Linked DNA regions of Homo sapiens. The protein of the gene in region 4 interacts with the protein of the main gene of each other region in a pairwise test. Each region holds a gene or a part of one and is shown on either strand. Other genes may lie near its edges. The genes, in order: BFSP2, SLC7A8, EPC1 and SYCE1L.

Region 1 (5,185 bases), on a different chromosome or scaffold from region 4:
ACTGACATATTTGATGGATTTCAATCTATTGCAGTTAATGTTCTTAATAATATTCTTTTAAAAATTGATGGATCATGCTTTTATTCTATAACTGACTTACTTTAATATTTGAAAACTGTAAATGACATTTTGTCTATTTCCCAAGAGGGGAGCTAACAGGTCTCTATGGATTCACTTGGAAGTGGCTCACAAGTCTTTCTTTAAACTTTAAAACATCTCTAAACTTTTACATTCTTTACTATTAAGGCAAAAAGGCAGTTCAAGTTCAATCAGAATTTCATGTTCAATTGCTTCACATAGTCACAATATTAAAAGCTCTGAATGTGTGACTTAGGTCCAGCGGTTAGAAAGGTATTTTCAGCCTGGCGAGATGTGCTTTGCTGCTGGGCTGCAGCTCATTTGTGCTGTCACCATGGGATTGGCTACTGTAGCGCTCAGAGGACAGCTCTGGTTCCACAGACTCCTGTCCGCCCACGGACTCCTGTCCGCCCACGGGCTGCACACAGGCAATAGGTTTCTGTAACATTGAACTGAACTTTGACATCAACGAAGGTGGGAAAGACTGATTTGAGTGCTGCCCACTTGGAAAAGATACGTGAGAGGGAGAATCCCCGTTTGCATTAGGGTCCCCAGGTGATTTGGAGCGCTGATATTCCTTGCTATGCTGATCATTCCCATGAGAGCTGGAATGACTGGAGCTTAACGAAGAGACAGCCTGGGGTTTCCCAGGGCTGGAAGAGCGCGGCTTGGAGTGCTGTGATCCATGCTGACATTTTTCTCTGGTCTTCTGCTCCCACTACTGCTATGTGAGTCACAGTCATGTCTCTGGCCACGACTGTTAGTGCCACTGCTGCCACCTGCACCGGTCTACTGGCTACTATGTCCACTCTGTAAGCCTGAGGACTGTTTCTGGGACAGAAATGCTGGGTGCAGAGGTCCTACTGGGGTCCATTTTCATCTGTTATAGGTGGTACCGTAGGCTTGGAAACTGCAATAAGCCTTGGTATAGATTTGTCTCCTATAAAATCTTTCATTTCACCATAGTTTCCAAGCCTACTCTGGATACAACTCGATAACTTATCTTCCTTGCTAGTAGTTTTGTATGGCTCAGCAAAGAGAAGAGAGCTAGGTGGGAAGGCAACTTCGTCCTGTTGAATTTCCTGATCCCGCCTTTCTTGTTCTTTCATACCCGCCACGGTCCGGGCTTTATGGTTCATGTTGCTTATCTTGACTTCTTTTTCTCCCCAGTGCAGCCTCCTTGGTGTCCATCCTTATGGCAGTTGGACCTCAGCTTTGCTGTTGCTTTAGATTCCACAGCATGAGGTGTAGAAGAGTCCTGAGCACAGGAGTTCTGTCCCCATGGAGTTGGGGTAGCCACCCTCCCAGCACATGGATGTCTTCTTGTTCACCTTACTGGAAGCCCTGATAATATTCTTATTGATTCCCAACCATCTTTGGTTAGTGGGAGCTTCTTTGAATTGACTCCTAAGTCTTCTGACATGACTGTAGTAGTTTTTCATAGCGTCCTTGCTTTCTGGTATGACAAGGTGTTTCAGACTCGTCTTGAATATTTCCTATCCTCGAACCTGGATTCAGCCATTTCTACAAGGAGCCCCCCATTCTTTTAGTGAAAGATGGTTGTTAGAGACCCAAATCTGAGGCTAAAAATGTTCATTGTCGCTAAGTTGGCCATTGCTTCTAGATCTTTTCAGTGGTCAGACTTGGAAATAGGCATATATTTATTTTCATGATCACATATATCATGACTTTATATTGATAATTCTGATTTAAATTCAAGACTAAAGAATTGTCACTAAACGTCATGCATCTTACAACTGTATCTCCTTTCACTCACATTCAAGTCTCAGTTTTCAATAACACAAATATAGTTACTCTCTTACTCTGTCCCACAGTACACACACACACACACACACACACACACACCAGTGTCAGAATAACAGTGCCAGTGCTACCACCACCAATGTGATTACTGAAAAATTGTTGGGTTTTTTTCTGTTGTCTTTTGCATCTCCACTAGGAATGTACAGTTAAATTCCTGTGGTTTAAAAAGCCACTTGGAATAGTTCTTCTTCGTGTGACTATGCTATCAACTTGGTACATAGCTGGATTCATTTGTTTCTTTTTATTTTTGATTCTTAGAATTGGCTTTCTGAAATCTATTTTTGTTATACAATTCTGTAAAATATTTTCATGGTTCCAAAGTCATCTCCACATAACAAGATAAATTAGAAGAACTCTAGTGCCCTACCTTTCCCTGCTACTTTTTCCCCTCCACCCTCCTATAAGTAACATTTAAAAATACTTATGGTTTGTTTTATTCCATTTTTTCAATGTAAACACATATGTATGTATATATTCATATCCTTCCCTTTTCTTAGCTAGATGGTAGAATGAAATACACACTCTTTCCATCTTGCCTTTTAGCTCAATAACATATCCTGGAGATCATCACTCCATAGTAGCTATAGAGCGATTTCTTGTTCCTTTGCAGATGCATCATGGTTTATTCAACGAGTCCCCTCCTGGGAGGTATTTGGATTTTTCCAGTATTTTGGTATTACAGATAGGATTGCAGTGAACAGCTTTGTACATACTTCTTGTTCATATTTTTGCCAGTGTGTCATTGGGAGTGTGTCCTAGAAACAGGACTGCTGGGTCAAATTATGTATACATAAATGCCTATATAATTTGTCTAGATGTTGCCAAATTTTTCTCCATAGGGGTTGTAACATTTTCTATTCCCATCAACACTGTATAAACTTGCCTGTTTCCCTAGAGCTTCACCAACAAATAGTTTGACATACTTTTAGAGTTTTGCTAATTGGATAGGTAAAAGTGGTATCTCAGGTAGATTTTAAAAATTTCTCTTATTATGAGTGCAGTTGAGACATTAGGAGCCATTTTCATCTATTTTTTGTGTCAACTGTCTGTTCATATCTCTAACATTTAAAAATAAAAGAGTGCTATCGGCTTTTTTTAACCTCAAATTTTAAATGCTGTGTATAAAATAGGGCTATTTTAACCTTTTGTATCCTACATTGCATTTTTTTTTCTAGTTTGTCATTTATCTTTTAATTTTGCTTATGGTGATATTTTGAAATGCAACATTTTAAAATTTTTCTTAATCAAATTTATCAATATTTTCCTTTGTTGCTTTTGTATTTTGAATTGTAACAAGAAAAATTTTTCCCACATCCAAGTTATAAAGGAATTCACCTATGTTTTCTACTTGTATGGTTTCATTTTTGATTTTATATCTAGGATACATTTAGAACTGACCCTAGGGTACAGCAAGAAATGGATCTAATTTTATTATTTTCCTTATGACTATCTAGTTGTCTGAATATCACTTATTAAAAAGTCCATCCTTCCCTCTATTGGTTTCAAATGCTGCCTTCATCAATACTCAATTTCCAAACACAGTAGAGCTTACTATAGAATGTTCTATTCTGTTCCATGGTTTTCTCATCTTTTTTGTGCCAACGCTAAACTATTTTAATTACAGAGACTTTATAATATGTTAATGTCTGGCGGGGCTGCTGGTCCCCTCCCCAGCCTCCTCCCCTCCACTCTTTCTTAGTTTTTCTTTCCTGGCCATTCTTGTCTTTCTGTTCTTACAAAGGGAATTTAAAATCAACTCATCTAACTCTAGAAAAAAAAATGGAATTTTAAAAATTAGGATTGCATTAAATTGATACATTAACTTAGGGAGAAGAGACATCTTTATGCTATTGAGTCTATTTGAGTGCATGGTGTTTCTTTCCATTTGTTCAAGACTATTTTGTGTGTTTCAGATAGATTTGATTGTTGTCTAATATAGACTTTGGACATTTCTGAAGTTTAGAGGTGATTCATCTTACGCTATCATAAATAAGATTTTCTCATCTCTTTTATCTTTTTGTTTATATATAAATAGCATTGTTTGTTATTTGTTTTGAGATGGCCCTTGCTTTGTTGCCCAGGCTGGTCTTGAACTCCTGGGCTCAAGCAATCCCCCTGCTTCACCCTCTTGAATACCTGGGACTACAGGTTTGTACCACCATGCCCAGCAGCATTTATTTATTTATTTTTCTTTTAGAGACAGGGTCTTGCTCTGTCACCCAGGCTGGAGTGCAGTTGTAGAATCATGGCTCACTGCAGCCTCAACCTCCCAGGCTCAAGTGATCCTTCTGCCTTGGCCTCACAATGTACTTGGATTACAGGCATTTGCCCACATGCCCAGCCTCAGCATTGCTTTTTGATGTTATTTTATAACGTGCTACTTCACTAAATCATCTTATTTTTTGTCGTATAGTTTTTACATTGTTCCTTCTGGGATTTCCAGAAAGACCAAATTTTTCCCTCTTTCTTTCCAATTCTTATACCAAGTACTTTCTCTTGTCTAATCATATTGACTACTGCCTCTAACCAACGAGAGAGAGCGGGCATCTTTTTCTCATTCTTAATTTCTGTGGAAGGCCTAGTGTTTCCTTCTTAGAGATATTTTATCATGTCAAAGGAAGTCTCTAATCATCCTCATTATTCAGATGAGAAACTGAGATGCAGAGATCAATGAAGACCTTGGCTCAAGATCACACGGTTGGTAGATGGCAAGCGGCAAGGCTAGGGGCTGTCTGGCTTCAAAATCCCCAGTCTTTGCATCACATCTAATTTTCCCTAGTTTTCATGGAAAACTGACCCCACCCCCTGTCTTCCATTTCCCAACATGGAACTCACATTTTAAGAGATCTTAAGAGGTTTAAGAGTGGCCGAGTGTGGTGTATGAGAGGGGCATGGAAAGAGGCCCTGAGTGCCACACCCTAGTCTCCCTCTGTTTTCTTTAGCAGTTCTCTTGCTTTCCAGACACATTCAACTTCCAGAAACCACCTTTCTTAGAAAGCAGCTTAGTGACTGGCTGGGCACGGTGGCTCACGCCTGTGATCCCAATACTTTGGCAGGCCAAGGCTGGTGGATCACCTGAGGTCAGGAGTTTGAGACCAGCCTGGCCAACATGGTGAAACCCTGTCTCTACTAAAAATACAAAAAAAAAAAAAATAGCTGGATATGGTGGTGGGCACCTGTAATCCCAGCTACTTGGGAGGCTGAGGCAGGAGAATCGCTTAAACCCGGGAGGCGGAGGTTGCAGTGAGCCGAGATTGCGCCACAACCTGGGCAACAGAGTGAG
Region 2 (5,118 bases), on a different chromosome or scaffold from region 4:
CTACTCTTCCTCCTAGAGCTAACTCTTCTTCTCAGATGGCTCTGTCCAGCTGAGTGAACCTAGCCTTACCTCCCAGGCCCTCCCATCAAGCTCCTCAGACCCTGACTCTCTCCACAGACTCGGCTCAGGCTGTGCTGATGAGAGAAGCCTTTGCTGATCAGGCTTTGGGAGGACATCTGCCTTTGCCTCCCTCAACTTGGCTGGATGCCATCTCTCCCTTGCCCATGTCCCACCCTGGGCAATGTTGACTTCTTCCCAGTTAGTCTGCAGGCTTTCAGTACGGTGCACAGAGCAGGAACTTAATAACACTTCATGACTCCAAGAAGGAGTGAGACAGTGTTGTTAAATAAAAAATTACAGAAGGCCATGGTTTTGGACTAAGCTCCTGCCCTAGGCCCCACAGACCAGGCTAAAAATCAAAATAGAATCACCCATGCTAAAGTTCCACATCACCAAATCTAAACTAAGTTGTTATCTGACCTTCCTAGAAATCAGGAGAGAGACATAACAGCCAATTAAAACAGGCCAGTTTCAATATTCAATGGACATGATAATGAAGTTCCCTCTGCTTTAATCTTTACACAAAACAAGGCAGCCTGAAGGATCCTGATATGAACTAATCAGTTATTTTTCTATTGTTCCGTCTCCCTGTCCCCACCTTACAAGAAAAGTAAATTTGTTTTTGTTTTTGAGACAGGGGCTTGCTCTTCCGCCCAGGCTGGAGGGCAGTAGCGCAAGCATAGCTCACTGCAGCCTCGACCTCCCAGGCTCAACCCATCCTCCTTTCGGCCTCGGCCTCCCAAGGAGCTGGGACCACAGGCACATACCACCATGCCCAGCTAATTTTATCTTTTGTAGAGACGAGGTCTTGCTATGTTGCCCAGGCTGGTCTCAAACTCCTGGGCTCAAGAGATCCTCCCTCCTCGGCCTCCCGAAGTGCTGGGATTACGGGAGTGAGCCGCTGTGCCCGGCCAAGAAAAGCAACTTCGAAAAGTGACTAACCAGCTTTCTTCAGCCCTCCCTGTCTGTAAAGCCAACCTCTTCTGCTCAACTCATTGGAATATGTATTCTATTTTATGGAATGAAGTGTTGCCTGATTCCAGAATTACAGTAAACAATTGAGATCTGTAAATTCGTTGTACTTTTGTCTTTTGATGTTTTTGGTTCAGAATGAGAGTCAGTGGTTTGAATGCACTGGCATTGAGTCCCTAGGATAGCTAGAAGTTACAGAGAGCGAGAGCTTTTAGGAATGTCATTCTGGAAGGAACCTGGCAAGATCTCCTAAGAGGAAATGCCTGGTGACTCTGTCTCAAAAGGTTACTTAATTACCAACACCACCAACTTCATTTCCATTTTAAATTTTATTACATCAAAAGAAAAAAACCTCTCCACAAAACAAATCTCTAAAACCTACACCAAACGAAAGAAATTATCATTAAGGTTCTAACTCCATCCCCCAAAACAACCTTACATTAAAAAAAATCCAAAAGAAATAGAAATACCAGCTTCAAAAATATTTATCCAAAAAGTAAGGCATCAACTTTACAAAAAAATAATTGAAGGAGGGGAGGAAGTTGGAGGAATGAGAAAAGAGGGAATAAGAAGATGGTCCCCTGACCCTCCAGGGGCCAACCCCAGCCTGCCGGGCATCTACTCTGAAGGGGTCACAACTCAGACCAAACTTGGCATCTCACCAACTATGGGGTGGGCAAGCTGGGCGGGGAAGCTGGGAGACACCATCCAGGCCAGGAAGGGCTCCTGTGTATTCCAGTTTAAGCAGACAGAATTCGGGGTGGGGGAGAGAATCCCGATTTGTGATAAAAGGATCCTAAGTCCTTAGTGCAGCAGGAGTGGCTGGGAAGGTTGCAGGGCCCACAGCAAACTCCATAGCCTTCCTTTGAAGCCCAGGGAAAGGTCAGAGGCTGCCAGCCACAGAGGAGGGCCTTTTTTGAGGATCTCCAGAGTGGGCGCCCTGCTGCCACTACCCTTTCACCCTGCCCCAAGACAGCATGACACTGAGACCTGCGAGGAGTGGGGGATTATTGGAGTTGGGGATGGATGGGAAAGGAACTGGGCTTCAGCCAATGCTCTCCTCAGTCTCCCAGGGTATGGAATGGGCACCTCTAGGGAGGGGGAAAGCACCCTTCCTCCCAGGGAAGGCATTTAATATCAGATCCGTCCTGAGGGTTAGAAATAGGGGAGTATTTTTAGGCCAAGTTCTTGGATGGGAGGTGACTTAAGGCTGATCTGGCTCTGATCTCAGGCCTGAAGGGCTTGGGGATCCTTCGTACCTGGTCCCAAGCCAAGGCCCAGAGAGGAGAAGTGCACGGTGGGGGCGGTGGTGCTGGCTGTGTGCGGGTGTGCTGGGAGTGGCTGCAGGGATAGCAGGGGACTGCTCCTTCCTGCGGCGGGCAGGTGGAGTTGCTGAGCAGCTTCGTCATTAGGAGAGAGATGCCCACTACCTTAAAAATCAGAAGCTTTTTGGCTTCTGGAAGCTTTGGCACCATGTTGGGGGCTGGATGCAGGAGGCAGGGGCAGGGCTGGGTTTCTGCAATCTGAACCTTTCTCAATATGTTCCTCAACCGCCTGGCTTGGGGGTGGAGAGGCTGTTCTTCTCCTTGGTCCTTAGCTCTGGGAGTTGGCGTCCTGAGGAGAACCGAATTCTGGACAGGGAGCCCTGGCTGGGGTGGGTGCAGGTATGATGGGGAGGGGCAGGAAAGAGGGCAGAGGGAAGCATCCCCTTGGATTTTGGGTCCCTGGTGAACAGATAGGGTCTTGGGTCTCTCCAGCTGACCCCTTGATGGGGACAGAATTGCTTGAGCCTGTCCCCCCACAATGCAGCTCCTGTGGCCTCTCCTCTCTGAAGGGGCCTCCCTGGGAGGGAAGGCAGTAATGAGCTCCGGTTCCTGAAGAGGCAGCTGAGGGTGTGGCCCGGAGGGAGGTCCTGCAGGGCACCTTGGCATCTCCCCTCTCCTCCAGCAGCTGGGAGTGTGGGCAGCACTGGAGTGGGGCCTGGGACATGGACCCTGGGGTGAGAGGCTGGTTCTTTGGGTATGAATGTCAGTTTTTGTTTACAATTTCTCACCACCCACACCAAAGTCCTACCACTGCCTGACAAAAGCAGAGAGAGGGGTGTGTGTGTACTCGCATGTGTTGGCAGGACCAAGGCAGGGAGGTAGGATAAAAGGGGGAGGAAGGAGAGAGTAGCCAGGGAATGGTGGTCCTCAGGGCTGGGGCTGCCCCGCCACGTCCTTGTCCTTCGTGGGAGTGGGTTGGTACATGGGCTGCTGCTGCTCCTCCATGTCCTCATTAGCCTCCTCTGTCCCTGAGCCCCGCTCCACCTCGGGGTACACGACCACACACATCTTCTGGCTCACCAGGGTTAGCAGCTCTGTAGGAAGAGATCACACAGAAACCAGGCCAATGCTGAGTATCCCACCAACCTGGCCAAGTGGCCCCGGCCCTTCCTGGCTCTCCTGCTCCAGGTTCTGCCTCTTCAGAGCAGTCAGTGCGTTGAAGAGAATCCTCGCCACCTGGTCTGCCTCCTGCATCTCCCGCCGGCTACTCTTTGCTTATGAAGGCCCCAGCCTTCCCACCTTCCCTGTGCCCACTGACCCCTAAGTCCAGGGTCTCCTCTGGTCTCCACCCAGCCTCGGGCAGCTCTCACAGAATGGCTGACAGGTTGCCTATTTTATTTTAAAATTTTTAATAACAGAGATGGAGTCTTGCTATGTCGACCAGGCTGGTCTCAACCTCCTGGGCTCAAGTGATCCTCTGTCTCAGCCTCCCAAAGTGCTGGGATTACAGGCGTGAGCCACTGTGCCCAGCCCAGGTTGCCTATTCTTGCGGGTCTAAGGTCTGTGTGGAAATGCCAGCTGTTCTCTACCCTCAGAGGTCTCTGGGAAAAGGCATCTGCTTCCCCTGCTCTGGACTCTTCCAGGGCTCTGTGGACTGAGGAGAAGGTGAGCCTAGATCTCCTGGCCCTGGTGGCTCCCCAACCCCATCACTGACCACTGCATTCCAGCCCAGGAGGCCCTGAAGCCAGCCAGAGCCTCCAACAACTCACCAATGAAGTCACTGAAACACTTGGGCTTGTGTTGCCAGTAAACACCCAGGAAATAGACAGGCACTCCTGTCAGCATGATGGCCAGGCCAATGCCACACACCACCGGCTCTGACCACAGGCTGAAGACCAGCAGGAAGGCCCAGAACAGCAAGTAGATGATGGGGAACAGCAGGTTGATCTGTGGAGCAGAGGCATGAGGCGTATGAACTGTGTAGGCCACGTGGCCCCCAGGACTAGGGACTGGGGCATTCTCTCTCTTCTTCACCCACAGAGACACATCCTCAAGGGCAAAGGCTGGGCTTCCCTCGGCTCTGTGGTCCCACACTCACCCCTGGTAGGGCAGGGGCTATATAAACAAATGTTGATGAACATGGTCGGTCAGACAGGAAGAGGATGGGGAGGAGTTAGGGAGGAAACGATCCTCCTTGCCCATGTCCTCGCTCTTGGGTGTGGTTAGACAAGGCCTCATCATGCATGCCATGTGCCCGTGGCAGCCAGAGAAGCCCACAGGGATGGAGAAGCTTGCTGGCACATGGGTGTGTCTGCTGAGGTCCTAGGGTGGAGGGGAGGTGTGGCAATGCACAAGGTGCAGGCAGGAGACGATTCGAGTCACTCAGGCTCCCTGGTCCTTGCCCACTTCTGTGCAGGGCCCTTATGTGGGCACAATATGGCAAATGTCAGCTCCTTATGGGCCACATGTGGGGAGTTCCTGAGAGTATCCTCTTCAGGGCTCCAGGGGCAGTCCTGATTCGGCTGCCTTTCTCTTCCTTGTCTTCCTCGCTCAGAAGGGATGTGTGTGGTGGGGACATGGGGTTATTCTACCTCCTCTTCCCTCTAGCAGATTTTCTAAGTGTGAGAGTAGAAAATGGCGGTGGAAATGCCAGTGAGGAACTGAGAGATTTGGAGAGCCTTTGATTTTTCAGCTGGAAGGATCTTCTAGAAGCATCTAGTCACTGTTTCTAGAATAGGATTGTTCAAATAGCTCTGGAGTACACTCTATTCTTCTAATTCGTAGGAGAACTCATAATGCTCTAGCATGTCCTGTTCTGAGC
Region 3 (5,139 bases), on a different chromosome or scaffold from region 4:
TAAATGCTACATGGAAGTGCTTGTCACTTATGAACCCCAACGCAAGTCTCATTTCATTGTTCCGCAAGCCATTTATGAACGTGCCTGTGGGCAGCAGGTATACTGAGCAGATTGTGGGGACCCAGGCCTTGCTCTATCTGTTGGATTTCAGAAATTTCAATCCTAATTATTCTTGAGTACATTTAAGCCAGTAATTTACCGTTTACATTTTAGTCACTCTGATCAGTCACTAGAAAAAGGCAGCTTTTTGTATTTTCTCCTTAAAGAATACAGAACAGAATAAACAAAAAGTTATGCAAATTGGAAGTTTACCCTTTAGAGACAAGGAATTCTTAAAGTCAAGAGTAAGTGGAACACCCTATCATTGGCAGCTGTTTTACAGATTTGATTCTACTCTTGGTGATCGCATCCAAATTCATGGCTTTGAACTTCAATGATGAAGATGACTCTCAAGTTTTGGTCTCCAGCTGAAACCTCTCCTCCAAACTCCATACTTTTATATATGCAACCACCTACTTGAAATCTCTATTTGGATGTCTAACAGTGTGAAGCTGAATTTTGGATCTCGCAAACCCACTCCTCCCACAGTGCTTTCCACCTGTGGTCAGTTGCTCAGGCCAAATACCCTGAAGTCATCCTAACTCTTCTCTTTCTCAAGCCCCTTACATCTAAATTCAGTAAGCAAATTTTAATAGGTCCCTTTAAAGAACAGTATCCAATCACTTCTCACTACCATCCTCGGCCTTATTATCCTTGTCTCTCACTTGCATTACTGCAACTAGCTTCCTAACTGGGCTCCTCCTGCAGTCTGTTCTGAATAACAAAGCCAGAGTGAGCCTCTTCAGACCATGTCACTCCATGGCTCCAAACTCCTTTCTCAGAGGAAAAGCTAATGTCCTTAAATCATCCCCCAGTCCACTGTGAGCTGGCTCCCTGTGGCCGACACGCCCTACCCCAGCTCCCTCCAGCCCTGGCGGTGTTATCCAGTGCAGTAGACACACTACCACCTCGGGATCTCTGTACTTCTCTCTGCCTGGAATATTTTTCCTTAACTTCCAGTCTCTGATGAAACATAACTGCCTGTGGGCCCTTCCTTGACCACCCTACTTGAAACTGCAACCTCCAGCCTTCCCGGGCACTGTTTGTTCCCTTCCTTCACTTTTCTTCCAAATACTGGTCGTAATATATTTTAAATGCATTTATTTATTTATTTTCCCCCTATGAGAGTATAAGCTCCATGAGGGCAGGAATTATTTTCCCCACAGTTGTAGGACCTAAAGTGGTCCCAGGCATTGCAGTCATTCAGTAAGTAACTGTTGAAGAAAATGAACTTAAAGTCATCACCCCCCATTTCCATCCCCTCCTTTATGGAATGATTCTAATATAAGTCACACAGAGGTTCTTGGGTTGAAAACAAAAGCAAAAGACCACTACACATTAGTTTGTCAACATGTAATGCCCTGGGTTTATTTTGTGAGAATTCTATCACAATTTTTCCAGGTGGGATTAAAAACCTTAAGGATAATGTATGCCATTGGACTGGGCATTCAGACTTCGGTACTGACAAAGCACTAGTAGTAGTCTGTTAAGTACCATTCTCTTCACAGAAGAGAGGTCAAATATTTCCAAAGGAAGGCACCCGATATTTGTGGTTCTGGCCTTGCAGCCTTCTGGAGAATCTTAAAAGGAAAAAAGCTGGCTGGCTGTTTTTAGAAACTGGAATGATGATACACGTACAGCAATTACTGCATTCTTCTCCCTTATATCCTTTTCGTAAGAACAAGTAAAGAATGAAGTCTTTTAAACAATTCGACAATAAAAAAGTACAATTTTTTTTGTGCTAAAAAAAGGGCAAGACAACATAAACTCCAGTTGTAAGGACTCCATTTGCATACTTGATTTAACACTTTTTGGTGTGGAAGGAAATGGGACTACTGGGCTGTTCGCAGAGCAGCAACATAATATTAGTGCTTTAAGTACCAGAAACCACCCACAGCTTTGTGGGCAAGTTGGGGATGGAAAGATTCAAGAGACTTCATTTTTAGCTTGTTACTTGTCCTAATGATAGTAGACCAGGAAGATCCCCATTTAATAGTACATTCCCCATTTTTAAAAAAACTGATGCCTTTTTTTTTTTTTTTTTTTTTGTAAAATTCTGTATGTATGTCACCATTTTTTTTCACATGATACACAGAAAACTCAAGGACCCAGAGGGGAACCAAGTTATGTTATACCATTTACAAAATACCAAGGAGTCCACAGCTACCTAACACATTTACTACAGCACAGGAACCAATGAAGGTACAGTGTACAAAAAACTGTAAACACGGCACAATAAATAGATAAAACAGCAGGTTCCGCACCATGCACATGATGTGATGACACTTCATCTCTATACAATCTCACATCTCACACTCTTTGTTGCAATTGATTTCCCTCCCACCCCCCACCCCCAAGTGCAAAGCATCACAAATGAACATTTCTGTATTCAAGTAACATATATACAAGGGTATTACAAATATGCAGTACTGTACAGATAATTGCTGTATTCTTAATTTACAGATGTTGATTTTTTTCCTATTAACAGTAAGAAAAGAAAAATTGAAGCATGAGAGATGAGCATTGCTGTCAAGTCCCCACAGCTGCCACAGAAACGCATGTGCTGCTTTCCATCATCCCTTGCATTCAAAATGCTACTGATGCATAGCACCTAATCAAGTCCCCAGGCTGCAGTTCCACTCGGAGGAAGCTACGTCACCTCCATCGCTACTGTGTTGTCTGCTATGTTGTTCAGTGCTGGCTTTTCTGATTCATGATTTTCCCTGTTGAAATAAAGTTCAATCAATTACTTATCTACAACATAAATATTCAGCAAATGAACATTATCTTCCCAACAAAAAGTTTATTTTTATTAACAGGAAGAAATTGGACTCTTTGGGAACAAGCTAGCAAGTAGAGGAATACGAATCTTTATAGTTTATTATCAGAAATCAGGCTAATGTTGACTATAAATAAATTCCACAGTCAACTACATTACCATCAAAATTATAGTAGTACTCAAGCAACCTAGATGTTAAAAACAAAGAATTCCCATGTTTTAGTAATTGTTGTTTCAAGTTCCTTCTCTATTAAACCTTTCAAAAGAGTTTTTAAAAAGGAAACAAACATAACTGAGATTTGTGTCAGGCTTTAAATCAGTCTAATACATGGAGCTGAGTGGCACAGCCACAGAGCTCGAGGGCCCTAGTGGTTCTACAGTCTAGACTTTTGAGTGTCCTTAGAGAAATACATTAACTTCTCTGCGTCTCAGTTTCTTCATCTTTAAAAACAAAAGGACATGTGATATGAAAATTCTATACATGGCAAATATTCCATGGTTAAACAATTCTAGAGCAGTAAAATCATGATATGAGTCAGAACTATAGCTGACAGATGAGCTATATAATTAGACCCAGAATACTATTAAGAATGGATTGGCATTAAGCAGACAATGACTGTTACTTAAATTCAGAAGCAGATGCAGATGCATGGTTTGGAAACTACAGGCCACAGTTCATTGCTACAAACCCTGCTTTCTTCTGGGCCACTCCTGGCTGAGACAGTCTACCAGTCTGGCATTTAAAGTGCTCCAGGAATCTGGAATGGCTTCTCCTGCCATTCCAATTTAAACTACTAACCTTCCTGAGCCTATACAAAAACCAGTTTACTTGTTAACTTCTAAACACTTGTATTTCCTCAACTTTGTATTTTCACTCAGCCTCAAATTTGTATTTCACTCCACCTGCCAGAAATGCTTTTTCTTTCTCCTCTTTGCCCGAAGACTAACACAGATTGGATCTGATCTTATTTTGTTAGAAGAGTCCCAGAATTCCCTGTGCAAAAAAAGATTTCTCCTTATACTGAATTACAGCCATCATCTATACAATTAATTTAACAAGTATATAATGCTTTGTGATATCTACAATTAGCATTATTGGACTTCTCACTCTTTTATGCTTGTCTGCTAACTAAACTGAAAACACCTGTCTTTTTCTTTTGTTTCTCCCACAGTACCTTGTAGACAGCAGGATTTTAACTACCCTTAATTCTACAACATAATAGAGCATAAGCAAAATTCTCAACTGTCTACTGAAATCCAAGACGGCAAGTTAGCACAAAAAATAATGGTTCAATTTAGAGTTGACCTGGCATGAATACTGTAAGTCTTTACATTAATAAGAATAGCTTAACGCCGGGCGTGGTGGCTCATGCCTGTAATTCCAGCACTTTGGGAGGCCAAGGCAGGCTGACCACCTGAGGTCAGGGGTTCAAGACTAGCATGGCCAACATGGTGAAACCCCGTCCCTGCTAAAAATGCAAAAATTAGCCAGGCATCGCGGTGTATGCCTGTAATCCCATCTACTCAGAAGGCTGAGACAGAATCACTTGAACCTGGGAGGCAGAGATTGCAGTGAGCTGAGATTGTGCCACTGCACTCCAGCCTGGGCAACAGAGCGAGACTCGGTCTCAAAAAAAAAAAAAAAAAAAAAAAAAAAAGAATAGCTTAGCATACCAGTGATGGGGCAGGGGTTTCTATCAATTCTACCTGTTTACATGAGAAGCTGTGGAAAAAAAGTCATAAAAGAAACGCTCTCAGGAGAACTCCTTCCATCCAAAGACGGAAGAAAACTGAGAGCATTATACGCTTTTTTTTTTTTTTGAGACAGAGTTTAGCTCTTGTTGCCCTGGCCAGAGTGCAATGGTGCGATCTTGGTTGCAACCTCCACCTCCCAGGTTCAAGCGATTCTCCTGCCTCAGCCTCCTGAGTAGCTGAGATTACAGGCATGCGCCACCATGCCCGGGTGATTTTGTATTTTTAGTAGAGGTGGCCTTTCACCATGTTGGATCGGCTGTTCTCGAACTCCTGACCTTAGGTGATCTGCCTGCCTCTGCCTCCCAAAGTGCTAGGATTACAGGCGTGAGCCACTGCACCTGGTATAACTATTGTTATAGTAAGAAAGGGATGTTCCAAATCATATATGCAACATTCACTATACCAGTTAGTTCAAATTCTTAATATTGAATTAAGTGTTCAAGAACTGTTTAGTTCTTGAATAAATAAGTGATCAATTCTCAACTATACATTTTCAATGTATAAAA
Region 4 (3,839 bases):
CCGCCCCTCCCCTTTTGTGCTTCTCGCGAAGTCTTCACCTACATTAGGTCATTCATTCATTCAACTATTTATTAACTCAATGTGCAGTTCCTGCTGTGGCTGGAGACCCACCCACCTCCCCCTAAACGCTCTCCATGTCTCCAGGCACCTCTCAAACTTGAACTCTTCCCACTCTCCTCATCCTCCATTCCCCAATCTGCGGCTCCTCAACGGTTTCAGGCACCGTCCAGCCCCAGGGCCTTCCTTCTGCACCGATACCTGCACGGCTTCTTCCCTCACTTCCTTCACCTCTGCGTTGAGATGTCACTTGCTTAGAGGCCTTCCCACTGAAGTTCCACGATCTAGCCACTAACTTTCTTGGTGCCTCCACCGTCCCCAACCAGCTTGGGACAGCAAAGACGTGGACTCTTTGATCTGCTACCCTCCCTCCCTGCCTCAAATGCTGACCGGTGCAACCACTGACATTAGCTAAATGAAGGAATGACCTGACCATGGCTTTCCCTGGGCTGCCATTTGCCACTGCAAGGTGAACATACACTAGATGAGCAGGGGGAAAGCAGGATCACAATGGTACTGCACCCGTCTGGGCAGGTGATGCTGGGTGTGGCAGTGGGGCATGGTGAGGCGTAAGTTGATTTTAGATAAAAGCTGAGGGACTGAATAGGTGGGCAAGCGGAAGCAAGGAATCAAGGACTATCCCGCGGCATTGAGCCTGGGCAGGGGTGGACTCTGGGCCAGTCAGTGCGACACTAAAGCCAGGGAGGAGTGGCTTTGGTTGCAGGCAATGATAATGGCTCACGTGGAATTCCCAGAGGTCCTTGTGCTGGCCCATCAGATCCTCCAGCTGTCCTCTGACATCCAACCTGGAGGCCGACACCCAGGAATAAGAGAACACATGCTAGGCCTGACACCCTGTTGGGGGCTCCTCATGCACAGGCCTTCAGATCCTGCCCATGCTCCCTCTGCTGGGAGCCCCTTCATGGGTTTTATCCTCTAAGCTTTGGTTCCCGTAGCACCTCTTCCAACAAACTCTCCCTGATGCAAGCCCTGTTCCCACTTTCTACACAGTGGCCTGCCAGGCCCCAGGCTTGGGAGTTACCCCAGATTCCTCTGTTTGAGACTCTGAAACCTGAGAATTATGGGCAAAAATTTGTTCCATGCACTCTTGCAGCATGTGCTTCCTGGGAAGGGAAAGACAACCCTCAGTCATATTCTCTGAATGACCCATCATTCACTCCAGCAGGAGTGGGAGTTGGGATGTCTGTTCACAGCATTCACCTTTCTTGTTTCTCCTGTTGAATGAGAACCTTCATGGGCCTCTGTTGAGAACATTACCCTGTCCATCCTGTCCCCCATGGAATGAACTCTGCCTTCCCAAGAAAGCTTTGTGAGGCGTGTGGTAATTTGGCACCACAGATTCTATAACATCCTGGCTTGAACCCTAATCTGTTACTTCACCGAGACCCTGGCCAAGTTACTTAACCTCTCTGGGTCTCAGTTTCCTAATATGTAAAATGGTGGTAGTGATGGGAGGGTGACATTAGCCTTAACTCCTATAATTATCATTGTGAGGATTAGGTACATAAATGAGCATAAATGCTCATCATACAGTGTGAGTAGTGTGGTTGAGTATCACACATTAGCTAACATCAGGTTTCCCCATGCAATTAAAATCATGGTGCACCAGGATGAGAGACCTCTGGTAACAGGAGTGTGCTAGGTAAAAGTTCAGAAGATGTCGGGTGTGGTAGCTCACGCCTGTAATCCCAGCACTTTGGGAGGCCAAGGTGGGCAGGATCACCTAAGGTCGAGAGTTCGAGACCAGCCTGACCAACATGGAGAAACCCCATCTCTACTAAAAACACAAAATTAGCCGGGCATGGTGGCACATGCCTGTAATCTCAGCTACTCGGGAGGATGAAGAGATGGATGGATACAGGTTGGATAGACAGTTGACTGGATGTGTGAGTTGCTGGCTGGAGAAATGATAGCTGATTGGAGAAATGATGAGTAGAGGAATAGTGGCTGGACAGAGAAAGAAAGGATTGCTAAAAGGAAGGGTAGATGTCTGGATGGATGTTTGGCTAAGTGAATATATGATGGAAAGAATAAAGAGAGGATGAATGCATGATTGGATGGATGGAAGATTGTTAGGTGGAAGGCCGGAGATAAAACAGCCATCTGGCTGGATGACATGGTTGGATAGATGGATGAATGGATGAATGAGTGAGTAGGTGAATGGCTAGATGGGTGGATAGATGAATGGGTGGGCAAATGGATGACTGGGGCTTAAAATAAGGAGGCAAATAAGCAAGTGAATGGATATCAAAGGAGCTGGATAGCCAACAGAAAAAGACTGAGGCTAAGACCAATGGAGGGAATATATTTGATAAAGAAATTAGTAACGAATAATTAAATGAGTAAATTAATCTTAACACGACCATTTAATATCAGAGATAACCAAGGAAATCTTTTGTCAGGCTGCTCTATTTTATAGAAAGGTAAAATGAGGCTTCTGTGTCCAAGATTCATTTCCACAGCTCTTGCTCCCTCCTTTTTCAGCTGGGGAATGAGGTAGGGAAGAGCTGAGGCAGGGCCTCTTACCTCTGAGCCTCGCTTTCCTTCTCTTGGCAGTGCATCTGGAGGATCCTCAGTGCCTCTGTGGGGAAGGAACCAAGGGGACCCTTTGAGAGCTCTTGGGGAGTCAGGGTTGGCCAGAGGTAATAGGCCCCACATCATGTCAGGCATTGGAGGGCACTGTGAGGACTTGGGTGTTTACTCCAAGTGATGTAGCAATCCAGGAAGAGATCTGTGCAGAGAGGGAAGCACCCTGCCTTAGGTTTCAGTGGGATTCCTCTGGCTGCTCTGAGGAGCATAGACTTTTGTGGGGTGGAAGAGTAGAATAAGGAAGACACAGCAACTGGTAAATACCTTGCTTTTTGCCCAAGACCTCCTCTAGGTGCACTTTCTCTCCATTCACTGGAAAACACAATGACACTTTCTGCCTCCAGGCACCCCATTGCCATCCCCAGTGCAACTTCATATAAGGGGAAAGCCACACAGAAGGTGTAGTACAGCCCTAGGAGAGGTGAGGTATCTTCTTGCCACCCTTGCAACCATCTCCCAGAAGGACCATCCTGATCCAGCTTCTCCCCCTCTATGCCCACATTCTTTGTAAATGTTGAAGGAGTGAAGACCCTGAAGAATGTACAAGGTTTACACTGAGGAGAAAGATGGCTATAAAGAAATACACACACAGTGTCAGGTGGACATAAAGGCTCTTAAGAAACAAATCAGCCAGGGGCGTGAGAATGACCAAGAGAGGGCGGGATTCTATTCTTAGATGAGACCATCAAGATAGGCCTATCAGGGTGAAATTTGAGCTGAGAGCTGAAAGATGACATGAGACAGTGAAAGGCAATACAGATTATGTGAGCTAAGAGCATTGTAGGCCAGGGAGCAGCCTGTGCAAAGGCCCTGAGGTATGCACAGGAACATCTGCAGTGTTGATGGGTCCCTCTTTTGGCCCCACTTACAGGAGTCTAATTCCCTATGCAGGGCCTCCCAGAGACTGTGGGTCTCTCTCAGTTCCTCACTGGATTTCTTCTTTGCTGGGCCAAGAAGGGAAAAAGACACTGTATGAGTGTAGTCTCTAGCCTTGCTGTTCTCTCGCAAATATGACATTGCACAGTCATCTTCAAACAACCCTAGAGGGGCCTAGATTTTATAGATGAGGAGGTGGATTCATTATAAATCCAGTCACTTCCTGCTCGCCCCAGCTGGCCAGTCTAAGTCCCCAAGTTTACCTTGCTGAAGATCATTAATCCGGCTAATCAGGT

What was found.
Region 1: the proteins of SYCE1L (region 4) and BFSP2 interact in a two-hybrid assay, tested with the Homo sapiens proteins (one large-scale study listed by BioGRID).
Region 2: the proteins of SYCE1L (region 4) and SLC7A8 interact in a two-hybrid assay, tested with the Homo sapiens proteins (one large-scale study listed by BioGRID).
Region 3: the proteins of SYCE1L (region 4) and EPC1 interact in a two-hybrid assay, tested with the Homo sapiens proteins (one large-scale study listed by BioGRID).

What each region holds. Positions count from the first base shown.
Region 1 is NC_000003.12:133,405,987-133,411,171, reverse strand, and holds part of BFSP2 (phakinin), read right to left. Parts: intron 1-5,185.
Region 2 is NC_000014.9:23,123,953-23,129,070, forward strand, and holds the end of SLC7A8 (large neutral amino acids transporter small subunit 2), read right to left. Parts: intron 4,413-5,118; exon of another isoform or gene 4,245-4,412; coding exon 4,067-4,244; intron 3,392-4,066; coding exon 3,225-3,391; 3' UTR 1,343-3,224; downstream 1-1,342. UniProt on the Homo sapiens protein: Associates with SLC3A2 to form a functional heterodimeric complex that translocates small and large neutral amino acids with broad specificity and a stoichiometry of 1:1.
Region 3 is NC_000010.11:32,266,314-32,271,452, forward strand, and holds the end of EPC1 (enhancer of polycomb homolog 1), read right to left. Parts: intron 2,823-5,139; coding exon 2,750-2,822; 3' UTR 1,438-2,749; downstream 1-1,437. UniProt on the Homo sapiens protein: Component of the NuA4 histone acetyltransferase (HAT) complex, a multiprotein complex involved in transcriptional activation of select genes principally by acetylation of nucleosomal histones H4 and H2A.
Region 4 is NC_000016.10:77,208,237-77,212,075, reverse strand, and holds part of SYCE1L (synaptonemal complex central element protein 1-like), read right to left. Parts: coding exon 3,807-3,839; intron 3,612-3,806; coding exon 3,537-3,611; intron 2,980-3,536; coding exon 2,932-2,979; intron 2,660-2,931; coding exon 2,605-2,659; intron 864-2,604; coding exon 800-863; intron 490-799; exon of another isoform or gene 145-489; intron 48-144; exon of another isoform or gene 1-47. UniProt on the Homo sapiens protein: May be involved in meiosis.